2 separate regions of the Homo sapiens genome follow, and region 2 is linked to region 1. A link means that fine-mapping ties the variant in region 1 to the expression of a gene that starts in the linked region. Tissue or cell type: fibroblasts. Region 1 holds a variant in brackets; the other region holds the start of a gene. All regions are shown on one strand. Distances are from middle to middle.

Region 1 (6,744 bases):
GGAAATGTGACTGTGTTCATCTTATTATTCTGCGATGCTGTTTCTGCAGAACCCAATCTGTTCTCTCTCCCCACTGAATGTTTTCCCTAACTTTTCTTCTTCTTTTTTTTTTTTTTGGTCTTCTTCTGTCTCCCATACTGGAGTGCAGTGGTGTGATCTTGGCTCACTGCAACCTCTGCCTCCTGGGTTCAAGCAATTCTTCTGCCTCAGCCTCCTGAGTAGCTGGGATTACAGGGGCGTGCCACCACATCCAACTAATTTTTGTATTTTTAGTAGAGATGGGGTTTCACCATATTGGCCAGGCTGATCTCAAACCCCTGACCTCAGGTGATCCACCCGCCTCAGCCTCCTAAAGTGTTGGGATAGCAGGTGTGAGCCACCTCGCCCGGCCTGTTTTCCCTAACTTTGCTCATCTCTGCATTTTAAAATTCGACCATGTATTTTGCATCTAAATCTTTCTTGTTGTCAGATTCTTTTCTCTGCATATTTACATATATATTTTTCTATTATGTATTATCATCAAAAAGAGAAATTGGAGATTTAGGGAAGATATTTTCCTATTTTAAAAAAAATAAATCTGTTTTATTGGGGGGAGGGGGGGATTGTGCTTTTATCTATCAGATTGGTTCCTGCTTAGGGAAGCAGCATGTATGAGGGTGAACGGCACAGGCTCTGTGGCCAGACTAACTCCCTGGTCTCAAGACCAATCCCACCATGTGGAGCTGTGTGGCCTTGGGCAAGTGACTTAACTGCTCTGAGTCTCAGCTACCACATCTGTAAAATGGGGACCACCATAGCACCTGCCTCACAGGGCTGTCATTGTAAATAGATGAGTTTAATATTCATGTAGACTTTAAAACAATCCTGACTCTTGCATCACCACGTCAGTATTTGATACATGAAATGGTGGCATCTGTCCATTTTTCTCTTTGCTCATCTTCATTTTGTCCAGTACTGAGGGTTCATATGGGATCTCTCTGGCATAAAACGGGAAGGGAAGCTCATGTTTTGTGTGTGTGTGTGTTTTTAGGTTGCTTCTTGGAGGTCTGGTGGGCCAAGAGCAGGAGTAGGAACGCAGAGCCTTGTGGCAGAGAAGTGTCCTCAGCAGGATGGGCAGTTGCTTTTCTGATAGCTGTGGTGGCTCATGGTGAGGCGAATGGGACATCCTGCCTCAGCAGGGCCCCCGCGTTACCCAGCTCATGCCTGCACAAGGGGCAGGCTCCAGGGAGCCTCGTGGCCTTCACCATGAGAGCAGGCCCTGGGCTGTTCTGAAGACTTCGATCTGCTCCATGCCACCCTCACTCCAGCCTCCACCGTGCCTCCTTGGGAGAAGGAAGCCGTGGGTAAAGAATCCTGGACAGGTGGACACATTATTAGTCTCTAGCAACACCTGAAGAAGTTTCCTTTCTTTCTGGCTTATTGATGACACCTTTTCATTTTTATCTGGCATATATGCAGAGTTTGTTTTTTTCTTTTAAGAACTTTAAAAAATATATCTTAAAATTCAACAAGAATTTGGGAGGAAGCAGAGTTTACTCTCTGGATTCAATGACTAGGTTGAAATGGAGTCTGTCATAGTCTCCTAACTGGTCCTCCTGGTTCCAGTCTCCCTGACCCCTCTGTCTGTCCTCCTACAGTTGGAAGGAACTTCTCCGTCAAGTCTGACATTGGGCCCCTTCTTTAGCAGCATCTACCACGTGGCAACCCAACACCCCTCAAGGACACCCACACTGCGCTCTGATCTGCTGCAGCTCCCATCTTGCCATTTCTGTCTTGGCCCCTTCTCTCCAGGCACATGGCGTCATCGCTGTGCCTCTTTGTGCATTTTTGACTTCTCATATGCTCTCCCCTCTGTCGGAAATCCTTCCAGCCATCCTCTCAGGCCTGCCAAACTCCTACCCTGCCAAGGCCCCAGGCCAGGGAAGTAGTCTAGCCCGGGTCTTCCCATCCTGCAACAGCTCCTTCCTGAGTGACACTTAGTGTCTTGCAGTTGTTTAGTTACAAGCCTGTTCCCTCCATGGACTGTTAGTTCTTCGGTAGCAGGAACTATGCCCTTTTTACTTTTGGGCTCTTAGTACCTGGCATAGGACTTAATACCTAGTGGATGTTTTCTGAATACTTTATTGGCCCCTAGAGTCTCCAGTGTGAGCCATGCTGTCTTGGTTGCACCATCTGGCTTTCACTATTCCTGGAAGTAGGGATGAGATGATCTACTCCCTCTGACACTGGGTCCTGGCCACTGGGCCACTCTCCCTGGTTAGTTCCCCCACTATTCTCTCTCTGGATCTAACGGAGCACCCCTCCCATAGACGTTGGATAATGACCTGAGACCACAGGGATGCCCAATCACCAGAAGCCATTCCCCACAGAGAGTTTGGGAGAAGGGGGACTCATTTACAATTCTCGTGAAGGGCATCAGATGCACTGCTTTTCCGCAGCCCTCATGTCTGCATTTAACCCTCACCCTCACGATCTCTGAGGACACTGTCACCTGTCCATTTATGGAGCCCAAGCAAAATCAGAAAAGGAGAAGAATATTAGAGTATGATGTTGCCCTTCATTTTAAATGCAATTCATTGTTGCTTGTGTGTGGGGACAATCGCCCATCTCCCTGTGGAGGACCAAACAGAGGGTCATCACCCAGTGTGGGACATGCAAATGGTCAGAGCTAGTTAATTGACCTGGTTATGAGTTCAGGAATGAAAGTTTGGGCTTAAGGTGCTGGTGCACAGGTGTGTGTGAAAAGGTGAAGTCAGGGAAAAGAGAAGGCAGGCTGCATAGAAGCCAAGAGGTGGGAGCACCCATATGTCCTAGGGATGAATAGATGGACAAAATGTGGTAGATATTAATAGATACAATAGAATACCATTCAGCCTTAAAAATGACATTATGACATAAGCTACAATGTGGAAGAACCTTGAAGACATTATGTTAAGTGACATACATGAATCACAAAAGGGCAAATACTACATGATTACATCACATGAGGTACCTAGAGTAGTTAAATTCACAGAATGGTGGTTGCGAGGGCATGGGGAAAGAG[G/A]GAATGAGGAGCTGTTGTTTAACAGGTACTGAGTTTCAGTTTTACAAGAGAAAAAGTTCTGGAGATTGGCTGTGTGACAGTGGAAATCTACTTAACACTACTGAATGGTATACTTAAACTGGTTAGGGTGGCAAATTTTATGTTACCTTTTTTTAAATAGAAGATAAAACAATCAAGTAGGCTGATTTAGAGAGTGGGGCATGGCATATGACCAAGGAGTAAATATTTGAGATCTAGAAGGAACTTGGGGAATTATGCTGGGTCTTAAGTTTGTCTAAGGATGTGAGAAACTATCATTATTGGAGTAATGGCAACTTCTTAGAGTAGCATGGTGCTGTAATGTTTACAAATGATTTTACTTCTAAGATCTAATTGTAAAATGTACTTACCTCTCTCCACAAAGCATTCAACTCGGCTTACAAATATACCTATAAAATATAAAATGTATAATAAATAAATTTGTGTAAATACAAAATAAAACAGAGCTAAGGAAAAATGGAAATTCAAATAGAAGGATTTTTCTATAGAGGGATTTTCTATTAGAACACATGTGTATTACTTGGAAAATAAGCTCAACTGCATATAACAGACACCCCAAACAACAGAGATGTAAAACAAAGATGCAGAATGACAGAGACTTATTTTGCTCTCCAAAAAGTCTAGGCCATTATGGTGGCTCTGGTCACAAGGCCATTATGCTAACAAGTCTCTTGTCAACACATTCTGTTGATGCTGTCCTGGGACTCTCTTTAACCAGTAAAATCAGGTGACGTTTCTAGACCTAGCCCTTAAGAGGCCTGGCAGCTTTCTCTGTCACTATTCTGGGATCCAGCTCCATATAAATAAGCTCAGACAAGATGATTGAATGATGAGAGACTGCCGAGAGAGAGAGAGAGAGACAGAGAGAGAGAGAGAGAGAGAAAGAGGAGGGCCAGAGAGCTCCGACCTATTCTAGCCACTGCAGCTAAGGCACCAGATTTAGCTACTAGCTAAGTGTAACTGCATGAGTGTCTGCTGTCCATACCACATTCTGCAGAACAGCCTAGCTGAGCCCAGCCAGCCCACTGAACCGTGAGAAATTCTAAATTCTTGTTTTAAGCCACTAAGTTTTAGAGTGGGCTGTCACACAGCAATAGACAGTTGTTAAAGGGAGAACAAATAGTGGGGGACAATTAACACTCTCAGCCATAACATTTCATGAGCTCTTCTGCACTGAATAGCTGCCTGGGGTAGATAGTGCCTATGAGAAGTCACACACTTCAAGCTGATAGTTTACCATGACCCTGAGTCAGCTGCAGGTATGAAGCAGCCATCCTCACACAAAGTCCCCAGTACATCTTTCAGCAAACATGCATTTGAGGACTAGGAATGAGTCTCTGGATGTGTGATGCGAACAGGTGTCTAGTGAGCAGATTCCGACTTGCCTTGATGACTTGCCACTAAAATACTTGCAGACTAAACCAGAGAGATCGAGAACCCAGCACTAACTACCCATTGAGAAAATAAGTCTGAAGGTCAACCTATTTCTAAAATTCTAGAAGGAATCCCAATATTAATAAGTATAATTGGAAGGGGAAAATAAACTTGTTAAAAAAAAAATCCTGGCTGGGCCCGGTGGCTCATGCCTGTAATCTCAGCACTTTGAGAGGCTGAGGTGGGTGGATCACGAGGTCAGGAGATCAAGACTATTCTGGCTAACATGGTGAAACCCCCTTCTCTACTAAAATACAAAAAATTAGATGGATGTGGTGGTGTGCACCTGTAGTCCCAGCTACTCCGGAGGCTGAGGCAGGAGAATCACTTGAACCCGGGAGGCGGAGATTGCAGTGAGCCGAGATCACGCTACTGCACTCCAGCCTGGCGACAGAGCGAGACTCCACCAAAAAGCAAACAAACAAACAAACAACAACAACAACAAAACCCTTAAGCTGCTGGGGACACCTAGAAGGTGTCTAGGGCAGTGGGAAGAGTCTTTGCTGAGGTTGAGAGTTCTTTTATTTAAGTCAAGATCTTGTGGGCTATGTTAGGTTTTGCAAAGCCTGGATGAGCCTGCCCTGTGACAGCAGAAATGAGGAGGACTTTGGAGCTTGTGGGAAAGTCTTTGGGGAGACATGGATTTGAAAAACAGAGGGAAGTGGTGATGTCAAGACAGAGAAAGAGCAAAGTAGACACGGCTCAAATTCTGAATGAGAAATGCCCTGTCAGGAGTCACTGAAGAATCTTAGAGCAAGGATATAATATTCTGTTTGAGTTGTTTACTTTTGCAGGAAGCAATCTTCCCTCCCACACGCCAAGCCTGCAGGGAAAGCCTGCTGAATACAGACTAGGTTCAGGTCGACTATACACTAGGGAGGAGAAGCAGGAGGGGGTGACCTCTCACTGAGACCAGAGCGGCTTGGAGGCAAGAGGAGCTCTGTAGCAGGTAAGAGGCAAATGTCAGGTCAGTTCATAAAGGAGCGGCAGATCCAGTCAAAAAAGTCTCAACCAGCCAAAAAAGAAATAGGCAAGAAAGTGGAGACTTCTGGGTGACCTGAGGCAGATGCAGCTGGACTGAAGAAACGCCCATCCAGGGTTTCCTTCCAGTAAACTGAGAGCTCCGAAAGAGGTGAGCACTTTCCACCTCTCCCTGTCTCTGTGTCATGTGACCAGAGCCTCTGCCCAACCAGCCATACCCTCTGGCAGGCTTTCCTTTGTCCACAGGTGCTGTCAGGGAGGTGGTCTGGGTCCTAGCCTAATTTTTGCCATAATTCTACATCCAGTATCTTCAGAGCACTGAAGGAGGTGCAGGAAGTGCAGAAAATGCAGAAAACAAAGGAAATGCAGTGGGGAGGGGCCTGGCTTCTGCACATTGCATTCACTGCTGTCTCCCCAAGGAAAGCTGTGAGAGCTGGACTGGAGATTGGACGCATCTGGAAGGAAAAGGATTCTTCAGCACAAGGGGGAATAACTCTCAAAACCGACAGGAATGTATGATGGCTCTCTCCTTAAAGCCAGAAACAAAAGAAAGATGACTGTTATCAATACTCTGTTCTTGAAAGTTCTCTATCAATCAGCTAAGAAAGTGAAAGAAGTGTGATCGTGAAGAAGTAGGAAAAAGTACCAAGACTTGCTGACAGGTAATTTAATTGCCTACCTAGAAAATTGAGAGAAGTAGAAAAACTAGAAGAGTTAATATAAAGTGGCTGGTTACAAAGTAAACATTCAAAAATCCATAGTTGTTCTAGGAATAACTAGATAGAAAATGTAATAGACTCTATCAACAGATAGCAATGCAATTTAGAAAATACATAGGAGCAAATTTAACATGAAATTGGCTGGGTATTTTTAACAGTGGTATGTTTTTTTACAGAGGGACATAAAAATCCACTTGAATAATTAAAGAGATATACATAGGCAATGGAACAGTTATTGCCAAGATAATCAATTCTCCCAAAACTAATTTACAAATTGAATGTGATTTTAATGAAAACACAAGATTATTTTTTGAACTTGCGAAATAGACCCTAAGTTCATCTGAAAGAATAAGTGCCCAAAGAGAGCCAAGAAATTTTTGAGGAAACAGAAATAATATCAGTGTGTCTGGAGGTGGTTCCTTCTGGTGGGTTTGTGGTCTTGCTGACTTCAAGAATGAAGCCATGGACCTTTGCGGTGAGTGTTACAGCTCTTAAAGGTGGCACGGACCCAAAGAGTGTGTAGCAGCA
Region 2 (6,744 bases), 700 kb after region 1:
TGGCTCATTGCAACTTCTGCCTGCCAGGCTCAAGTGATCTTCCTATCCCAGCCTCCAGAGTAGCTGGGACCACAAGTGCATGCCACCACACCTGGGTAATTTATTTTTGTATTTCTGGTAAAGACGGGTTTCACCATGTTGCCCAGGCTGGTCTCGAACTCCTGAGCTCGAAGGATTCACCCGCCTCAGTCTTCCAAAGTGCTGGGGTTACAGGCATGAGCCACTAAGCCCAGTCCAGCACTTCTTTGTTAATGCAAATATAATTAAATAGTCGTAAGTCTAGTGCATATAATACAGGTAAAAATTGTTTCAAGAGACTTAAAAAAAAAAGCAGCTTTAATTTCCATTGTATATGTGTGTGTGTGTTTCAGTTACAGAAAAGAAAATTGCAAAATAGTACCCTAATGAGCCTGGAGGACATTATGTTAAGTGCAATAAGCCAGACACAGAAAGACAAATACCGCGCATTCTCCTTCGTATGCGGACCTAAAATAGTTGTGTTCACATAAGTGGAGATTAGAATTGTGGTTACTAGAGGCTGGGAAGTGGAGGGGAGATAGGGAGAGAGGATGGTGAATGGATACAAAATTACATTAGATAGGAAGAATAAATTCTAGTGCTCTATAGCATTGTAGGATGACTATAGTTAACAATAATTTATTGCATATTTTCAAACAGCTAGGAGAGAATTTTAAATGTTCCCAACACAAAGAAATGATTAATGTTTAGGAGACAGATATGCTAATTACCCTGAATTGACCATTACATTTTATACATGTGTAGAAATACAACTCTGTACCCCATAAATATGTATAATTATTATATGTTAAAATTGAAGTGTAAAAATAGTACCCTAGATGTACATAATTATCCAGTTCTACCCTTAGTCTGGGTAACCTAACCTGTTATGATCAGTGTGTTTATGCTGAAAACAATCCAGTCTTTACCCTGAGGCAGAGCGGGGGGCCAGGGACAAGTCAGGCAGTCCCCTGACTCCAGTCCTAGCCCTGCCTCCAGGCCAGTCTTGCATTTTCAACTGGCTTTAGAGCTCCTTCATTACTGTTTGTCTAAGTCAGTAGCTACAAAGCTGAGCTCCCCTTTCTGCAAATCCTCTTCTTCCTCCCATGGTTCTTGATATTAATAATAAGTGACATCTACTAAGTAGCTACTAAGTCCCAGGCACTCTACATATATTATCTCCAACCTTCAGAACAATCCTACCCGGTTCCATTTAATATACAAGGAAGATGATGTTCAGAGAGGATAAATGATTTACTTAATTTACTCACATGCTAGAAGTGCAAACCACATTTCTGGCTCCAAATCCCTCCAACTGCCTCTTCCCATTATACCTGGCTATCATAATGTAAAATGTAATAACCACCTTTGGTTTTTCTACACCAATTGGGACTCAGAATTAGTTGTAACACAATGGAAGGAATTCTCACCTCTCCACACCTCTGAGGCACAGCCTCTCACTGAAGCACTGTTTCTCACACTGCTGGGGAAGGAGTGAGGGTATGGATTTAGAGATGGTCACAAGAGGAGAAGAACTGCTTCCTACAAAAAAAGCACCCACAGAGATGGATACGCTCTCCCACATAAAAAACACTGCTACTGGGGAAGAGTCCTCATGTCTGTAGAGCGTCTACAAACATTAACTCATTTAATCCGCATGGCACCCTGCAAAGTAGGGCGTTATCTGGCTTTACAGATACGTAAAACTAGGATGAAGTAGCTAGTGAGGGGTAAAGCTGAGTTCAAAATCTGTCTTTTTTTTTTTTTTTGAGACAGAGTCTCACCCTGTCGCCCAGGCTGGAGTGCAGTGGCATGATCTTGGCTCACTGCAACCTCCACCTCCCTGGTTCAAGCGATTCTTGTGCCTCAGCCTCCCAAGTAGCTGGGATTACAGGTGCCCGCCACCATGCCCAACTAATTTTTTTATTTTTAGTAGAGATGGAGTTTCACCATGTTGGCCAGGCTGGTCTTGAACTCCTGACCTCAGGTGATGCACCCGCCTTTGCCTCCCAAAGTGTTGGGATTACAGGCGTGAGCCACTGCGCCCAGCCAACCTGTCTTTTTACTACATTATGTGGCCCTGCTATTCACAAAATCAATCAATTGCCCAGGCATGGTGGCTCACGCCCGTAATCCCAACACTTTGGGAAGCCAAGGTGGGAGGACTGCAAAGGCCAAGAGTTCAAAACCAGCCCAGCCAACATAAGGAGACCCTGTCTCTATAAAAAATAATTTAAAAAACAAAATCAACCATCAAGTCCTGTTAAAAGTATAAAAATCTCACATTTCTCCCTTCTACTCTGCTCCTGCAGTTTCTAGCTTAATCCACGTCTTCCTCACTATCCTTCATTTGCACTTCTGTCACCAACATGTGTGGCAGTACAGGTAAAACAGTTCAAAGAACTGGCTCTAAAAGTCGCGAAAGAATTTGAAACTCAGCTAGCTTGCTGTGCGATGTGGAGCAAGTTATTTAACCTCTTTGTGTCTCAATGTCATCATCTAGAAAATAGGGATAAGTACCTCCCTCATGGATGGGGTAAAAGGATTAAATGAGATAATGTGTTTTTCTTGGCCTTCAAAGTCTCTCCCCACTCATCCATCCTGTTATCTACTGTTCCCAGTGCAATCTTTGTTCATCTCTTCAGCACCCTCTTCGTCTAGCTCAGGGTCTGAGTAGGTCAAGGGGAGGATTTCTCATGAGGTGATGTTCTCACTCTGGCAGATCAAAAGGCTTTATTTGCTGGAGTCCAAAAAGAGACAAGGAGATTGCAAGGGAGACGGTGAATGGGGACGTTCTCTCTACACTCAAATCTATCCCAATCTTTCCATCAGCTGTTGATGACCACATGAAAACACAAGCCTGCATTCTTCTAGTCAGATGCATCAGGTGGTATTTTAAACTCTTGTCTGAAAGTCTTTCCCTTCTCCCGTAACACACACAGAGATAATCACAAAATAACAAAACATCAGTGTTGGAAGGAATCTTAGGACCCATCCTAACCTCCTCATGTTGCAGATAAAGAAACCGAGGCCTAGAAACTAGACATAACCTGCCCAAGGTTCCACAGCTATGCAAGTCAACCAGGACGATACAATCACCTTAGGAAGGGGAAAAGGCAGCAATGTGGTTTTGGCCAGTAATCTTTACCTTAAAGCGTATTACACACTCCCTGTAACTGCACACTCCGGTGCGTCCAAGTGACAAACCAGAAAACTTACTCTCCTTTGAACAAAAAGCGTGAGTTTCACGATACAGAGCCATTAGCCATTGATACTTCTCCCCTCAGTAAAATAAATCCACCCACAAAAAGCACAAAATTCCCAGCAGGGACATATACCAAAATAGGAAGTCTAAAATTATACTGATTTAGAAGACAGCTGAGATAACCATTAAGGAAGACCATCTTCACTGCAACCCACTCTCCCACCCACTCACCGCAAAACAGAAGGAAATGCTCTTTAGTAGATTGGGAAAGGTCACTCTCCCTGTTTGCAGGGCTCACTGACCACAAGAATCAACGCAAAGACAACCAGGGCACTGAAGGGTGAAGGGAGAGCAAAGCTGAACAGTGAGGGGCAGATCCGTGATTGAAGTGGTTTGAGAAATGGCAGGAGGAACAGGGCACTGGAATGACAGAGGGCTGGAGCGAGGGTCAGCAGGGCGCGCGGGTCAGAGGAGGAATGGAGGGTCAACAGTGGCTTCAGTGGGTCAGTAAGGATTCAAGGCATGAGTAGAGGAGGTTAGGGGGTCAGAAAGGTCCCAAGACAGAACAGGTAAGGGGTCATAGGGAACAGGGTCCCGCACAGAGAAGAGCCGGGAGGGTGTGCGCGCGCCGCGGACCTCCCATTGCTCCAGAAGACGCGCCATGTCTGCATCATTGTAATCGCGAATATCCTTCTTCTTCTTCCGGGGAGGTGGGGTAGACTCGTCGGGCGTCCCGGGCGAGCCTTCGGCCGCGCAGGACCCAGGCGGTGGTAGCAGTAGCAGCAGCAGCAGCAGGTCAGAGGCACAAAGCAGGACCACGGCCTTGCGCGCCCACCTGGAAGCCGCCATTTTCGCTGCGCCGCGCAGCGCCCTAGACGCGCTTACCCGACCTGCGCGGGCCGGACCCCGCCTTGCACACGCCTTCCTGTCCGCCTTTCCGAGGCCCCGCCTCCCGGCCCTCGCTAGCCTACCGGGCCCCGCCCCGTACCATTTCCTAACCCCCGCCTCTGGAAGCCCCGCCCCTCCGCCATTTTGGCCCCGCCCCACTGGCTCCTCCTCTTGGTCCGGCTGAGGCGCTCTGTCCCGGCTGGGTGGGTCCCTGAGTGCTCATTTTTCGTTTTCCGTCAGAGGCCGACCTTTTTCTCTGGAACGCACAAGCCAGGTCCAAAAGTTCCTTCAGGGCCTCCAGGAACCACTAACCAACGTCCCTGTTGACCTCAGTTTCTCGCCTGTGAAATAAATTGGAACTGGAAGTTCTGGAGGCTGCCTCGGCTCTAAAAAAGCCCATTTCTGGATGTCGGACGTTTATCCTCAGTCTCTTGCAATTTCCTTTGAGAACAGCCAGTTAAAAAGAAGTGAGTGGCAGGTAGGGCAACTTTTTTCAGAAAGTCATAAATAGTTCGAGTCCACTGCTTTCCTCATCAATAAAGAGGATTCAGTTCAACCAGCTTTCAATATTTGTTTTTTTTTTCCAAAAAGATCATTACTATTCATCCAAAAAAAAAAAAGCTTGCCTTTCTTTGATTTCAACCTAATACTGTAGGCTCTAACTAATCCTTTTCAAGGCTGAATCACGCTACTTTTTGTTTCTTAAAAAGATTTTGGCCAAAGATGCTTTGAGATTCTTCTTGTTTTAAACGGCTCATCAGCTGATGTCTTTAAAATGTTTAATTACATAAGACCTTAAAAAACAAAAAACAAAAAAAACCAAAGGCCGCACGGTGGCTTAAGCCTTTATAATCCCAGCACTTTGGGAGGCTGAGGTAGGACGATAATTTGAGTTTAGGAGTTTGAGACCAGACTGGGCAATAAAGCAAGACCCGCATCTCAAAAACAACAACAAAAAACGCTTCATTCTTTATACTGCTGCACAGTTTTATTTGGTATTGTTAAATTAATAGTTTATTTTCCTATTGATGGGCATTTATTACCAATTTTTCTGCTATTACAACAAAAAAGAGCTGTAGTAAACCTTATTCAAGCCTTGTTTGGATAGGATTAGTAGGCTGCATATAAAAGAAAACTGACTTTTTAAGGTGGTTTAAACAAGATAAAAGGTTTTATTGTGATTGACTTTTCTTTCACAGAAGCAGTGTAAACTCGAAACTAGGGCTGGTATAGTGGCTTCTCAGCCATCTGGTACTCAGCCTCTTCCTCATCCTTCTATCATATTAGCCTGTGGCTTCCACCCTCAAGGTCAGAAATTCCAGGATGGCTCCTGGAGCTCCAGTCATCAAGATGACATTCAACCAGAGGAAGGGAGAAGGCAGGCCAAACCAAGCACACCTTTCAAGTGGAGTCAACTTCTTTTAAGCAGCCTACTTGAACATTGCATACATTTCTGTTTACATCTCATTGGCTGGAACCTAGCTCTCCAAGGGAGGCTGAGAAATTGTCTTCTAGCTGTATACATTGTCATCTCAAATGAAATTAGGATTGTTATAAAGGGAAAAGAATAAAGTGGAGGTTGAGTAGGCAACTACGCCTGCTTTCCTTCACTCTTAGGACCAGTGCAATTTAAATTCTCTCACACCGTAGGAGTGGCTGATATTCTACATATTCATGCATGCATCTGTATGTAAACACGCTAAGCTATGACCTTTCCTATTGACGTTGAGCAGAAACAACTCATAAGAAAAAGATTTTTTCTTTTGTGAAATCATAGGGGAAATGTCATGAGCTTTCTCCCCAGAGCACATTGCTCCACCCAGTGGCTTGGAGCCCTATCCTAGTGCAGTCATACTAAAAAACATGCACAGCTGTGGCTGATCATGTGCTCTACTGGGAGGGGTCACCCTGGTAATTCATATTGCCAGCTTCAAAGTTAAGGGGCAAACGTGTTGGGATTCTTGGCCCACATATCTAGTTATAGAGAATAAGATCATTGAAAGTTTTACAGAAATTGTTGGGAATGTGTAGAAAGTTTCAGGGCTACTGACTTTCCTCTAAGGAGGAAATCAATTCGGCATATAATCCACTGATATGAAAACATCTGGATCAATTGCATTTTCAACATTTGGATATTTGAAACTTACTTTAGTGTTTGGAACTTGATTCCATTCAACTTGGGGGGAATTTTATTTACCAAAGACCTATTGTTAACCAAGAATCAGGTGAGGCACTGATGCAAAAATGAATATAACAATATCCTTACTCTGGCAGAGCAGATAAACAATATGCAGTAAATTTCATGCAGATTACAGGAGATCCGGGCCCAAAGGGATGATGTGATGATGATGATAATCTCTCCAATTTAAATAAGAGGAAATCCTGGTTTTACAATTACACAATTTGTCTGAGGCTGCACAGCTAGTGCAGCGGCAAGGCAAGAATCTAAGCCGAGGTGTACTGGATAACAAGGTCCAGTCTTCTTGGAGTCCTTCTTCCGCCACAGCACCATCTAGGTTAATCAGTGAGGCACTCAGGATGGTTAAATTGGGAGCCAAATGGAAAATGCATTGAAAAGTCTGGAGCGAGGAGCACTCAGATGGGACAAGAGTCTGTGCCAGGTACCAGGTGGT

Which allele goes with the higher level. Alleles are on the strand shown, and positions count from the first base shown. SD is a standard deviation of normalised expression in the study named.
For the expression in fibroblasts of the gene that starts at base 4,100 in region 2, A is the high allele of the variant in region 1 and G is the other (moderate effect, 0.46 SD a copy in GTEx).

The links. PIP is the estimated chance that this variant, and not a neighbour inherited with it, causes the effect.
Region 2: MESD starts here. The variant in region 1 is fine-mapped to the expression of MESD in fibroblasts (GTEx, PIP 0.93).

What each region holds. Positions count from the first base shown.
Region 1 is chr15:80,284,383-80,291,126 of GRCh38, forward strand. LINC00927 (long intergenic non-protein coding RNA 927) reads right to left here. Exons shown (of 3, transcript NR_033833.1): 2 at 3,433-3,471. Among named protein-coding and RNA genes, the nearest start is that of CTXND1, 36 kb to the left of the region's middle. The variant G/A (reference allele first, on the strand shown) is at 3,044.
Region 2 is chr15:80,985,720-80,992,463 of GRCh38, forward strand. It overlaps MESD (mesoderm development LRP chaperone), which reads right to left and starts at 4,100. Exons shown (of 3, transcript NM_015154.3): 1 at 3,860-4,100. The coding sequence starts at 4,072. RefSeq lists enhancers at 3,181-3,795, 3,784-4,063, 3,796-4,409, 4,049-4,343 and a silencer at 4,094-4,373.